Regions from separate parts of the Homo sapiens genome. Here region 2 is linked to region 1. A link means that fine-mapping ties the variant in region 1 to the expression of a gene that starts in the linked region. Tissue or cell type: liver. Region 1 holds a variant in brackets; the other region holds the start of a gene. All regions are shown on one strand. Distances are from middle to middle.

Region 1 (2,688 bases):
AGCTGATGTATGGCAACTGGTCAAAAGAATTGCCACACAGCCTGGCTTCCCAGCGCCCTCTCCTCTAGTGTTTGGCTGCCCAGGAGCCACAGCACAAGGAGGTAGCAAGGTCGCTAAAGCACATGTTCAGCAAGCTTGACCATGAGTTCTAGACTAGAAAAGAGGCAAATAAATAAATAAAAGGCAAGAAAGAAGCCAACTGACAACAAGGGAGAAGTTTTAGAGGCTAAAGCCATAAATGAGGTAAGCCATGGCAGGAGGGCTCTGAATACCCACTTTCTTTCCTGAAACACCTTCCTGTACCAATCATCACCATACGTCCTTATGAGTTTTGACTACCCCGAACACGCTCTTCTCTTCCTTCCCTTCTACTTAAATGCCCTTCCCATCCTTTAAGTTTCAACTCAAGTCCTACTCACTCCATGAGGTTCTCCTACTTGTTTTTAGATTTTCTGCACTCCTTCTCTGAACTCCTTCAGAACATTTTTCTAGGACACTTAAATTATTTCAGAATTATAGTCTTATGTTGTATCCTTTGTATAGATCTCATTTACCTGTGAGAATGCAACCTCTCTAAGGATAAGAACTGGGCTTCCCTAACATGGTCAAACGCTACTTTAACCCAAACATGCTTAACTTTTTTAAGTGTTGGTTAGTTATCCAGTAAATAAATGACATTACTACCATAAACTTATTTTGAGACTATTTGGTGAACTTTGTCAGATTTTTGATGTTTGAGAATTTGCAATATGCGTCCCAGTCACCCATGAAATGTTTAAAATATCTGTCAAATAATTCTTATTTCCAATATTATCTCTATAAACCATTTGCCCCTAATAAAATATTCATGGGAGCAGGGATCCCAAGCATTCATTTGCACAGTTATTAAACTATGACAGAATCAAAAGAACCAAGATTTTCTTCAGATGTTTTACATTTTCTTGGATTAAAAAATTGAATAAATTTGTATTATCTTTTAATACGGTGACCAGCATCTTGCAATAAATAAATACTATGTGTTAGGTTATGATGAAGAAAAATTAGTGTATTGTACAGAGGGAATTTCTTCATGGACCATAATGGCCGCCAAGAGGTCAACTCTGCCTCTAAGGAGCTGGTGGCCTTTCTCCCTCCGTTTCCCTGTGCGATGATGCAAGGGAGGACTTGCAGCTTCACAGTGCAGAGCAGTTGGAGCCCTGAGCCGTCCCGTTGCACCGCCGCTCTGTGGCCTTCCGCTAGTGGGCGCCGCTGAGCGGACTTCGGCGCTTCTGCCTCAGCACTCCAGAGCCCCACAGCCTGCGTCAATTTCCAATCCTGACTGACGCATGTGGGGCTGAAATGGCCAGGATTGTGAAAGTCGGTGGAATAATTCGATTCCATCAGCTATTCTAAAGGTCTGCCCTGGCCCTCTGGTTTTGAGTCATGCCCACACTAGAAGTTTGCAGTTTTGCCACCATGGCCTGTTGCCATTGAAACAAAGTTCATCCTTGGTGGAAAATGCTGATCTTCATAGAGCACTGCTGTCTTTTTTATTAGGATGGTTAATCCCTTCCTACATGTTCAGGGCGGGTACGGGCCTCCC[T/A]GGGCTTCTGGACTAATTTTCACACGCAAAAGCTTAGAGATGACTTGGGTGGTAGAAGTTCAGAGCGGGGAGAAAGCTTAGGAATCGTTCTAGTCAAATCCTCTTCTTTTACAGAAGAAAGTCCAGTCCAGAAAGAAGGGATTGGTCCCGTAGCCATCCAGCCCCTCAGTGACTTAGGCAGGGTTGAAACTCGTAGATAACTGACAGGCAGAGGTAGCACCAAAAAGGGACCCTCAACCAGAGGTTCCCAGCACCTTTCATTACCTTAACTGTGCTCTGGGAGCCTTCAGTGCTGTGGATGGGGTGTGGATTGCAGCCTGCCTTAGTCTGCTTTTGTGTAAGCCTTTATTGGCTGCTCAGTATGGGTCAAGCAGTGGACGAAGCTCTCATAGCATGTATGTCTCACTTAATCCGAGGCCGTGCCATCTGGTGCTACAGAGACAGGATCTGGAGCCAGCAGACCTGGACTCAAGTCCCAGCTCCACTTCTCAAGAGCCACAAGGATTTGGGCAAGTAACATCCCCTTCCCACACCTCCCTTTCCTCTGCTGAAATTGGAGACCATAGTAGAATCTCCCATTGGGTGAGATAAAGCATATAAACCACTTAGCACAGAACCTGCCTGATAGGAAGTACCTCAGGAATGTTAGCTTTTGTTTTTTTTATCAGTCTTACGCACTAGTTGTCTTCATGTTGATATTCATAGGAGCCAGCTAAATGTTCTATTTCACATCTATTATGTAAATGTACTATTAAAAGTGTATGCAGCTATAGATGTGTTAGTAACTGCATCGTAATCACCTCTATACAAATAATGTTTTTGTGAGATGAATGCATAAACCAAAATATTTTACAAATTATTTGTAAAAAAAAAAGTCTATGATATTCTTCAAAAACAGATTATTTTCTCGTGATGACTCTCTTTGCCTCCAAATTTTAAAGTGTGGGCCAGGCGCAGTGGCTCACACCTGTAATCCCAGCATTTTGGGACGCTGAGGTGGGTGGATCACTTGAGGCCAGGAGTTCGAGACCAGCCTGGCCAACATGGTGAAACCTCATCTCTATTAAAAATACAAAAATTATCTGGGTGTGGTGGCGGGTACCTGT
Region 2 (2,688 bases), 23 kb before region 1:
TTCTCCTTCCCCAGCCGCCTGAGTAGCTGGGACTACAGGTGCGCACCACCACACCCAGCTAATTTTTGTATTTTTAGTAGAGACGGAGTTTCACCATGTTGGTCAGGACGGTCTTGATCTCTTGACCTCGTGATCTGCCTGCCTCAGCCTCCCAAAGTGCAGGGATTACAGGCGTGAGCCACTGCGCCCAGCTGAATGTGTTTCTTTATAAGCATTGGCCTCCATCATTATACTTTGCTTCAGATCCATTAGTAAATGGTATAAGTTGTGCTTTTCTATTTTTCTTTGCTCATTATCTGCCATGGGGATCATTATTTTTAGATTAAGCAAAAATAATAAAATAGCATGGCTCAGAAAATAATTTTAGAAATTGTAATTTTGAAATGGTTAGTTCCACTAATCAAATCCAAGCAAATGTTTGAATTAAAGGAGAAACGAACTCTGTACTAGCCAAGTTTGTTTAACACTAGATAAATCTCTCATAGTTGCCAACATGGAAGAGGGAGATTCTTAAAAATAATCTGAAATGTCAAACCAATTTAGCCTAGACTGAGATTAGGGGTGAAGGTAGGAGAAGGAGTAGAACCAATTATATGAAAAATTATGAAACGTGGAGGAGGGGCTGCTTTCTCAGCAGACTTGGTGCAAACTTTGTTTCAGGCACAATTTGTTTCTTTACTATAGTAAGCACTTAATAAATGTTCAATGGAATTAAATGTCCTGGATTTCCAGTGTTAACATTCACAGAGAGATACAGTGAGCACACTCAACCTTGCACTTTGAAACAAACAAGCAAAAGCGAGAGCCTGGTAATTTGACTATTGATTTTATTTAAAGACATTTTACTCTTCATTAATACCTATCCTGTGAAGAGAACCTACAGAATATGGCCATTAAGCCTCTTCTTTAAAATACTTTTAAAAGGTGGGTTTCAAAAGTTTTATGCCTTGGAGCCAAGCTCCAAATCAACACCTTGATCAAGATATAATCCCATCACTTTGGCAACTAATATTTATCCTTGGGAATTGAGGCAAATATCAGACAGTGTAGTAATTTATTCACTTTTTCCTCCTTCGGTGAGTATTAAGGGAGCCATCCCTTTGTCTTAATCCATACCAGTCTCTGTATTAGTATCTGTATCAGAATTTGATTTTGATCAAAATCAGAATCAAATATTTATATCAACTTTTTATTATCTAGTTTTGTTCTAGTTAAGTCCCAGACCCAGACTCAGACTGAAAGGCTTTGTAATGTCTTCTCAACCCACTATTATGTTTCCCTCATTAAAGAACCGGAACATTCCATTTAAATTACTTAAAACATCCTCAGGACCATGTGTCATTCCTATTTCATTTTTAATAGCCAAATACACAAGTCTTTGTTGTGATCATGCTATTAATGACTTTTTAATCTTTTTAGTCTTCCCCTGAAATCAGTTTTTAAAAGTTAATCAATATTCTAAAATTGCACTTTCGACTTACCGGTAGAAATCAGACCAGCCAAAAGGAGGGCTTTGGTGGAAAACATCTGGTTTTACTTCCTTTAGTTTCTTCCTCTGATTAGAGTTGCCCCCACACTCTCTTTGAAGAATATTCAAGTTTGAATGAATACTTCCTAGCTATTTAGCCTTAGAATTCTGCATCTCTCATTTCTTTAGTGTGAGACACAAAAAGTTTAAGAGGATGGAGCAAGTCAAGTTCTAATATTCCATGGATAGCTATTTGATTTGCAGGTAGGGCCTATGTAAAAGCCTTTGATCTGAAGAAGAAGCCAATTATATTGGAAATACTGACTAAATATTAACAGAAAATGATAAGGCTAGGTGCATATCGACAGTCTTCTGGGCTGTGGCTTGTAGGAGAATGTTCGTGCGAATGATGGAATATTTAGTGCTGCCTGCTGGTAGATCTTTCTTTTATTTCCTTGATAGCACATATTTCAGAAGAAAATTGGTCATTAATAATGTGTAGCCCTTCATAACATATTCCTTAATATATCCCTTAGGTGTTTTTGAATTCTCAGTTTAATTATATTTCACCTGTGTAATATTTGCAAATAACTTTAATATTTTAATAAAATTGCATGTATTCACCTTAAATATGTGATTTTTAAATGTTTTCTTGTTTATGATAATGGTAAGTTAACACCATTAAAAGCATCCATCAATAAAGGAAAAAAGATTAATTATAATATAGTCATTGATATGGTTTGGATCTGTGTCCCCACCCAAATCTCATGTTCAATTGTAATCCCCAGTGTTGGAGGTGGGGCCTGGTGAGAGGTGATTGAATTATGGGGCTAGAGTGCTCATGAATGGGTTGGCATCATCCCCTTAGTGCTGTTGTCCTGATAGTGAGTGAGTGAGTTATGGTGAGATCCGGTTGTTTAAAAGTGTGTAGCACCTCCCCTGTTCTCACTTCCTCCTGCTTCAGCCGTGTAAGACATGCCTGCTTGCCCTTTGCCTTCCGCCATGATTTTCAGTTTCCTGAGACGTCCCAAGAAGCTACCATGCTTTCTGTACCTCTTTTCTTTATAAATTACCCAATCTCAGGTATTTCTTTATAGCAATGCAAGAACAGAATAATACAGTCATACAACAGAGTAAAATATAACAATTTAAATGAAGACAATCTACATGTATTAACACAGCTAGATCTCTAGATATACTGTTGAATTAAAAAGCTATTT

Direction of the effects. Alleles are on the strand shown, and positions count from the first base shown. SD is a standard deviation of normalised expression in the study named.
As copies of A replace T in region 1, the expression in liver of the gene that starts at base 1,677 in region 2 goes down (small effect, 0.24 SD a copy in GTEx).

Evidence for each region. PIP is the estimated chance that this variant, and not a neighbour inherited with it, causes the effect.
Region 2: LECT2 starts here. The variant in region 1 is fine-mapped to the expression of LECT2 in liver (GTEx, PIP above 0.99). The same link has a PIP of 0.9 or more in caudate.

What each region holds. Positions count from the first base shown.
Region 1 is chr5:135,976,362-135,979,049 of GRCh38, forward strand. No RefSeq gene overlaps it. Among named protein-coding and RNA genes, the nearest start is that of LECT2, 23 kb to the left of the region's middle. The variant T/A (reference allele first, on the strand shown) is at 1,583.
Region 2 is chr5:135,953,307-135,955,994 of GRCh38, forward strand. It overlaps LECT2 (leukocyte cell derived chemotaxin 2), which reads right to left and starts at 1,677. Exons shown (of 4, transcript NM_002302.3): 1 at 1,482-1,677. The coding sequence starts at 1,527.